Linked DNA regions of Homo sapiens: region 1 is reported to be linked to region 2. Evidence: microRNA targets listed by miRTarBase, many of them from high-throughput screens and not tested one by one. Region 2 holds a microRNA gene; the other region holds the end of a gene's coding sequence.

Region 1 (4,387 bases), not on the chromosome of region 2:
GCACCTGCCTCTGCTGCTACACAGATGCCCACTCCCTTCTGCATAGCACCCTGCCCCCTCTCCAAAACTTGAGCCTGCCCAGGTCTGGCCCCAGCCCTCACTCCCCCTCCACTAACAGCATCCACCCTTATACCTCTCAGAGGTCCAGTCAGAGTTGCCCTAGAGGGGCTGCCTCCTAACATCTGTACAAGGCTGGGGTGGGGGCGGCGTTCCCCTGGCCCTGGTTGTGAGTTGAGTTGAGCTTCCAGCCCTGTCCTGGAGGAGCTGGCCTCAGTCATGCTACAGCCAATGCCCTTTTGCAGCTGAGACTTACAGGAAAGAGATCTCATTCAGTAGGAGTACTGAGACCTGAGGCTGGTGGTGCCAGGAGGAGGCAGGGATAGGGAGGGCTTTGCAGCAGCTGTAGATAGGCCTGGAAGAATGGGTAAATTCAGACAGATTTGTGAAGGCACAGTTCACCATCTGTGAAAGGTATGAGCCATTTGAGGCCCTTAGCTCCAAGCTACCACTGCAGATAGAGGTTGTATGGGATAAGTGAGCAGGGGACAAGGGACTACATGATAGAAGGGGCCTGGAAGCCATCCCCAAGGAGTCTGAACTTTTGTCAGATCAAGTCTTGCCCTTGTCTTTGTTAGTGCAATTTTTTTTTCCTGCCAGGAATGTTCTTCAGTCATCTGGGGTGGGGTGGGCAAAGGCATCCTTACCTCCCTGAACCACCCCATCCTCTGAGCAGGGGGAGATGATCAATCGGATTGAGAAGAACATCCTGAGCTCAGCGGACTACGTGGAACGTGGGCAGGAGCACGTCAAGACGGCCCTGGAGAACCAGAAGAAGGCGAGGAAGGTGAGCCTCCCAGGCCCGGCCACTGCCCCAGGCACCCTGTGTGACTTCCCTGACCCCCTCCTCTCCCACAGAAGAAAGTCTTGATTGCCATCTGTGTGTCCATCACCGTCGTCCTCCTAGCAGTCATCATTGGCGTCACAGTGGTTGGATAATGTCGCACATTGTTGGTGAGATGTTGTGGGCTGCCCCCTGGCCTGCCCCAGCCCTGGCCCCAGCCCTCCCTCCTCCCTCAGACCCTGTTCTCCCTCCTTTCCTTACAGGCACTAGGAGCACCAGGAACCCAGGGCCTGGCCTTCTCTCCCAGCAGCCTGGGGGGCAGGGCAGAGCCTCCAGTCGGACCCCTTCCTCACACTGGCCCCTATGCAGAAGGGCAGACAGTTCTTCTGGGGTTGGCAGCTGCTCATTCATGATGGCCTCCTCCTTCAGGCCTCAATGCCTGGGGGAGGCCTGCACTGTCCTGATTGGCCGGGACACACGGTTTTGTAAAAAATTAAAAAACAAAAAAAGAGCATAGAAAGCCCTGTGCACGTGTGTTCCTGGAAGGGCTGGCCCAAGGCTTCCGGGCATCCAACCTCCTTACCTCCTGGACGTCCCCAGGGCCAGGTCTGGCCCTGGCTGCTCAGGTCAAACTGCCAGGGGTGCTGTGCCCACAGCAGGCTGGTTCTGCCTTTCTGCACCCCCATAGGAATGGGTGGGCAGGGAGGGGTAACACCGGCATCTAGCTCCTGGCTCAGTACTGTCCCCGGGAAAGGACCACTGTGAGTATCTGTCTTGGAAATGATGAGGCTGACCAGGCCAGGCTGGGACGCAGGTGAGATGGGGGTTTGGGTGGCATCAGTGGGCCTTCTTGTGGCCCAGAGGAAGAGGCACCATGAAAAAATGCCTAATTGAGGCTGTCACTTTGGATGCAGTGGATAGGGATGGTCTGGTTTCAGCAGGGATGACATTGGAGTGGGATGTTAAGCTGGGGAAGAGGTTGCCAGTCAGAAAGCACAGGAGGCCGGGCCCTGTGACCAACAAAAGCATCATCTTTTACATAAGCGTTTAGGCAGGGTGTGGTGGCTCGCACCAGTAATCCCAGCACTTTGGGAGGCCCAGGCAGGAGGATCTCTTGAGCCCAGGAGCTTGAGACCAGCCTAGGCAGGATGGGGCAACCTCTTCTCTTTAGAGAATAATAATTTTACAAATTAGCCAGGCGTGATGGCAAGTGTCTGTCGTCCCAGCTACTCCAGAGGCTGAGGTGGGAGGATCGCTTGAGCCCAGGAGATTAAGGCTGCAGTGAGCCATGGTCATCCCACTGCACTCCATCCTGGGTGACAGAGCGAGACCCTGTCTCAAAAATAATAGCAATCATCATCAGTAGCAGCAGCAGCAGCAGCAGCAGCATAGAGAGCCAGTGATCCTGGATCAGTGCACCTGGTTGCTGAGGGTTACCTGGCTGAAGCAGGTGGTGGCAGCAGAAAAGCCTGACCTCTGATTTCTTCCATAAGGTACCTGAAATCCAAGCCCTGACTAAATTTCTTTTTTTCTTTTTTTTTGAGACAGAGTCTTGTTCTTTTGCCCAGGCTGGAGTGCAGTGGCACTATCTCAGCTCACTGCAAGCTCCGTCTCCCAGGTTCACGCCATTCTCCTGCCTCAGCCTCCCGAGTAGCTGGGACTGCAGGCACCCGCCACCACACCCGGCTAATTTTTTGTATTTTTAGTAGAGACGGGGTTTCACCGTGTTAGGATGGTCTCGATCTACTGACATCGTGATCTGCCCTCCTCGGCCTCCCAAAGTGTTGGGATTACAGGCGTGAGCCACCGCCTAAATTTCTAAGGGCTCCTAGTCCTGATGCCTAATTTCTGGAGTGGACGTGGCTCCTGTTCCCCGACACCTAGAGTTTTTGTTTGTTTGTTTGTTTGTTTTGAGACAGAGTCTCGCTCTGTCGCCCAGCCTGGGGTGCAGTGGCGCAATCTCGGCTCACTGCAAGCTCCGCCTCCCGGGTTCACGCCATTCTCCTGCCTCAGCCTCCAGAGTAGCTGGGACTACAGGCGCCCGCCACCATGCCCGGCTAATTTTTTTTTTTTTTTTGAGACGGAGTCTTGCTCTATCGCCCAGACTGGAGTGCAGTGGTGCGATCTCCGCTCACTGCAAACTTCGCCTCCCGGGTTCACGCCATTCTCCTGCCTCAGGCTCCTGAGTAGCTGGGACTACAGGCACCCGCCACCGCGCCCGGCTAATTTTTTGTATTTTTAGTAGAGACGGGGTTTCATCGTGTTAGCCAGGATGGTCTCGATCTCCTGACCTCGTGATCCGCCCGCCTCAGCTTCCCAAAGTGCTGGGATTACAGGCATGAGCCACCGCGCCCGGCCCCCGACACCTAGTTTTAAAGGGTAAGCCGGCTCCTGGCACCTGCCTACTTGCAGTAGGGCGGCGCCTAGCTCTGACCTCCAAGGTCTGGGGACTGCGTCGCAGCCGCCCAGTCCATCCCACTTTCAATCTTACAGGCCCCTGCTGTTGCTGCCGCTGCCGCCGCTCCCAGCTGCCCAGTCTGGCGGGCTCAGTCCCGCGTTGCCATGTGTGGGAGACCGCGTCGCGTAAGCGCTGGATGTGGCTTCGCTGATGCACATTGGACCGGGCTCTGGACTGGGCTAGGGGAAGGGCAGGAGGGCGGAATTGGGCCCGAGGGCCAGGCCTCGCCGACCCCCGACTGCGCCTCCCGGTGGCCCCGCAGCGCCTCCCGGTGGCCCTGGAGTGCAGGTCTTACCGTCCGAGATCGTCCGCAACTGGGCGAGCTGTGCATGGGGCGTGGCTAAGGCCGTGGTTTGGTTACGATTGGCCAGCGGGACTTAAGTGTTGTCTCTGAAGAGCATGGACATTAGTCTGGAGGGTCCTGGAAGAGTGATCCCCGCCCCACCATCAAATGGCGCTTAGGTCTAGGAAGCGGGTGTGGGTGGGGCCTTAGGGCGAGGCGCAGACATACCCCGAAGTGGTTGGATTGTATACCGCAAGGGGCTGGATCGAACCCCCCAAAGACACTGGAAGGCTGTGTGGCTGAGGAGGGCCCGGCAGATCCAGTGTGTCGTGGGCTTTACAGGAAAGAGCTCCACCTTCTCTGGAGTGTGCAGATGCGATCTAGGTGTGTCCACCCGATGGGAGCTGCGGGCCGGGCAGATGCTGCCCCAGTACAAAGCTGATTTGGACCTGGGGCCTCTGGACTTCCCTGATTCTCTGCTTGCATCTCCAGCAAAGTCCTGTCCCGTTGGCTGCCTTCATCCACTCTCTCACTTCTCTGCCTTCAGAGTAAAATTGCAAGATCTGTGGTGCTTACTGGGATCTGATAGAGTCTCTCGGCATCCACTGTCTATGCAGCGGGTGTCCACCTGCAGCGGGGGCCATGTGCAGCGGGGGGCCACGTGCAGTGTGTGCCTCTTCTTAGCCATGCTGGACAGCGCCGCCCCTGAAAAGCAGCTCCCCGGTTTCACCCAGAAAGCCATCCAGAACCTCCTGGAAAAGGTGGCCTGATGGCCAAGTGGCCTCGGATGCCAGGCTCAATCCTT
Region 2 (4,387 bases):
CTCCTGGCTATTTGGGCCCCATGAGCCACAAGCCTCCGTCAGCACATGTGCCATGCATGCTACACAGGCCCTGGGCTGCGCAGGCTGAGGATAACGCGGAAGGGGAGCCTGGGTGTGGGGCCACGGGCATGGCGTGCCGTAGGCCTGACTGAATACAGCCGCTCCTCACCATGGCCCTGGGCAGCTGGGAGCACAGGGGCCTGAGGGGGCTGGGTTCAAATGAATTCTCACCTGGATGCACGAACACGTGCAAAGCATTTTTTAAATGAGCTATCCCGTTGAAGCAAAAGTGAGAACTCAAAACTCTGTCCCATGTTTGAAAACCACAGTCATAGTAGGTAAGGTTGTGGGCTCAAGAACCTGGAAGACGTTTGAGCAAATCCAAGCTCCGTCACTGAGGCAAGTCACCATGTCTCCAAGTCTCAGTTTCTTCAATCATCATGGAACTAGTGTGAGAATTTAATGAATTCTATAAAGCGTTGAGCACAGCCTTGCACTATATACAGCAGGTATAAAAATAATTACTAATAACAACGATGGCATGTCCTGGTCGTGGCTTCTGTAGAATTATTTTCTGAGACATGTCTCTTTTAATTCTCCTGCGGCACTAGGTCTAATTAAAGTTGACAATGTGTAAGTCAGCTTTCCGCTTAACTACAGTATTCCCTTCTTTTTTTAATTTTTTTACTTATTTATTTTATTTTTTGAGACAGAGTCTTGCTCTGTCTGGACTGGAGTCCAGTGGTGCAATCTGGGCTCACTGCAACCTCTGCCTCCCAGGTTCAAGTGATTCTCTTGCCTCAGCCTCCCAAGTAGCTGGGACTACAGGTGCGTGCCACTATGCCCAGCTAATTTTTTATATTTTAGTAGAAACAGGGTTTCACCATGTTGGTTAAGACAGTCTTGATCTCCTGACCTTGTGATCCACCCGCCTAGGCCTCCCAAAGTAATGGGATTACAGGCATGAGCCACTGCACCCGGCCCAGTATTCCCTTTGTAACATTACCAAGTCATCAATTCTATTTTATAGGTTAAGTAAAAAGAGAAATAGTCTATATACTAGAAAACCAGGCCGGGTGACGTGGCTCATGCCTGTAATGCCAATACTTTGGGAGGCCGAGGTGGGCAGATCACCTGAGATCAGGAGTTTGAAACCAGCCTGGCCAACATGAGGAAGCCCCGTCTATACTAAAAATACAAAAATTAGCTGGGTGTGATGGTGGGCGCCTGTAATGCCAGCTACTTGGGAGGCTGAGGCAAGAGAATTGCTTGAGCCTGGGAGGTGGAGGTTGCTGTGAGCCGAGATCATGCCACTGCACTCCAGCCTGGGCAACAGAGTGAGACTCCAGCTCAAAAACAGCAAAGAAAACCATATTATTCAGTAGTGTGTAGCTGGCTAGACGAACATGACCAGTTTTGGAATCCCGTGCATTCCTTCTCCCACAGAAGCAGGTGTAGACACGCCTCATGATGTTGCTCTTTCCTGCAAGATGCCGAAATGAGAGAAGACTGTTGAGAAAATAAAGTAGTAATTGACATTGCCAGTGGGTACTTATGACTTTTTAAGAAAGCTGTTAAACTTTGTCAGATTACTAACTCTTCTGGCTAAATCATCTTTTTAGAAATCATGTTTGGATTCATATATTTGAGCTGACAATGCACTTTACTCTCTCTTGAAAATTACTACTTTGATGTCCTTTAGTGTTGAGGAAGAAAACCCCCTACTTTTGAGTTTAATGGAAAGAAGCTACAAATACTTTCACACGTAAGAATATATTAGGCTGGTGCAAAAGTAATGGCGGTTTTTGCCATTACTTTTCATTTTTACCATTAAAAGTAATGGCAAAAAGCATGATTACTTTTTCACCAACCTAAGATTCATGCATTCCAAGGGTGCCGATTTCCATGGCTGACAAAGAGCCCCTGCTGTTATTTTCTTACTGGCTCCTGTGGCAATGTGGGCAGGTACCAGGCAGGGATCTGCAAGCTGAGTCCACAGAGGACTGCGGATCTGAGGGTTCTCCAGCTGCCCCCAGTCCACACGGCTAAGGAGAAACACAGTGGGACCCTTGCTTCTGCTGCAAAACACTAGACGGATGTGCCTGGTTATCATTTGTGAAGTTTAGATTGTTGAAAGAGATGTGGTTGAAAGAAACGTGCCTTTTTTCTTTTCACAGTTACATCAAACATCTCAGGTGGCAGACGCTGAGACACGGAGAGATCACTTTTTTTTTTTTGGTTTTTTAAGAGATGGGGTCTGGCTCTGTCACCCAGGCTGGAGTGCAGCAGTGTGACCGTAGCTCACTGCAGCCTCCAACTCAGACGGATCACATTCTGTCACCTGGCTAGACCCAAGTGAAGGCCCACAGAACTCAGGCTGCCCTGAGCTGGGCTTTATTTCATTCACACAGAAGCATCTCCTTCCTATGAAGCTCAGACAGCGGTTGCCCGGTGTCAAGCTCCTCAAAGTATTAATATTTTCCCAAACAGCCATTTAAATGTGAGGACTTCTCAGTGTCTAGGACAACTGGGATGTATTCACTTGCTTTCTTTAAAGTGGATTTACAAGGTTTTGCTTTTGTCCAGCAATCACATTCCATTTTTTATACCAGAAGATGCAGAGTGATGGGTGTAGTAAATCCAAAGCAGATGAGACCTCTGCACAAGCAAAACTCCTGTAAGTGAAGTGACTCCTATCCTAAGTGACTCCAGAACCCACTCAAGGACTCGGAAAGCCCCAGAACACAAACCCTGGCCCCCAGAGTCCCTTCTCCATGCACACGAATGCCATTTTCCTCACTTTGTTAAAACAGAAGGCAGCCCAAGACAAAAAGATAGAAACACATTTAAAAACCTGCTAATGGAGGCCCAGCACTTTGGGAGGCTGTGGTGGGTGGATCACTTGAGGTCAAAGTTTGAGATCAACCTGGCCAACATGGTGAAACCTCATCTCTATTACAAATATAAAAATTTGGCCCGGCATGGTGGCCGGCGTCTGTAATCCCAACTCCTCGGGAGGCCGAGGCACGAGAATTGCTTGAACCTGGGAGGTAGAGGTTGCAGTGAGCTGGGATCACGCCACTGCACTCCAGCCTGTGCGACAGAATGTCAAAACACCACCGCATGTTCTCACTCATAGGTGGGAATTGAACAATGAGAACATCTGGACACAGGAAGGGGAACATCACACACCGGGGCCTGTTGTGGGGTAGGGGGAGTGGGGAGGGATAGCATTAGGAGATAAACCTAATGTAAATGACGAGTTAATGGGTGCAGCACACCAACATGGCACATGTATACATATGTAACAAACCTGCACATTGTGCACATGTACCCTAGAACTTAAAGTATAATAAAAAATATAAAAAAAGAATGTCAAAACAACAACAACAACAAAACCTGCTAATAGAGTTTTAAACTACTGCAAGGATATAAACATAATTATTTATGATGTATTTTAATAGAAAAAAATGCCTTTCAATTTACATAGTAACTATTCTGCCTCTTGGAGGTCTTGCTTTCATTCATAAGTAGGCTGATTAGTGATGAGCTTACACATTAGCAAAAGATGCATGTTCATCTGTACCATATTGCAATTCCTGTATGCCTTAATGTAATCAATACTACTGCGGTATTTTCAGTAGATAACCTTCCTTAAGTAGATAACCTTCCCCTCCTTTTCTGAGATGAGATGCCCCAAAAACGATTCAGGGAAATGCAGGATTTAATTAGTTTGGGTTCTGTCATTTACCATCTGTGTGAGGTCAGGGAAGCTTTCTAACCTTGTGAGCTGCAGATGCCTCATCTGTTACATGGAAGAGGTCAGACATCTTTTCCTTTTAAAGCAAAAATTCTACAATTCTCCCGTTCAGACCGTTCAAACACCTAATAAATCTCAATTCTCCCAAACTGCAGCCTGCCTCCTTCCAAATAATGATAAATTCTCAATTAATTAAGTGTGACTCAATGAGATTGCTTTAAGACGTGTGGGCCTGCAATACACAAGCCCACTGCCTGACACCCTGGGACTTTAGCCTCTTCACGTCCATTTCTTCTTTTCCCCATGTGGTGTTCACATAGTTCTTCCTCCCATGTGGACTCCGGAACACCTTCCTTTCTGCCTTTTCCCATCTACACTCAAATTCCAGCCCACACCATTTTCCACCTGCCCCGAGAGCACCGATTATACCTCCGTTAGAGATATACTAATGAACACTTTCAATATTCTGTCACATACTTATTAAATCACATTTCCTGACTCTTTACTCTCTTCTACTTCTCACTCTTGTTCCAAGTAGTTCCCAATAGATCACATCCTTTTTAGTGATCAGGGCCATGCCTTACATTTCTGTTTCCGCCTTAATGCTAGAAACTCTGTTAGGACAGG

The links. The annotated mature microRNA hsa-miR-548q reads GCUGGUGCAAAAGUAAUGGCGG and lies in region 2 at 1,781-1,802, shown strand. An mRNA with a match to its seed (bases 2 to 7 or 8) in the 3' UTR can be bound and repressed. Matches are read on the target gene's strand: a 7mer-m8 pairs with bases 2 to 8, a 7mer-A1 pairs with bases 2 to 7 and ends in A, and an 8mer does both.
Region 1: the mRNA of STX4 is a reported target of hsa-miR-548q. Seed matches in the 3' UTR shown: 7mer-m8 at 1,114-1,120.

The regions. Positions count from the first base shown.
Region 1 is chr16:31,038,808-31,043,194 of GRCh38, forward strand. It overlaps STX4 (syntaxin 4), which reads left to right. Exons shown (of 11, transcript NM_004604.5): 9 at 734-844; 10 at 916-1,011; 11 at 1,105-1,357. The coding sequence ends at 996. Among named protein-coding and RNA genes, the nearest start is that of STX4, 7.4 kb to the left of the region's middle.
Region 2 is chr10:12,722,740-12,727,126 of GRCh38, reverse strand. It overlaps MIR548Q (microRNA 548q), which reads left to right and starts at 1,774; the gene lies at 1,774-1,873. All of the region lies in intron 3 of CAMK1D (calcium/calmodulin dependent protein kinase ID), which reads right to left.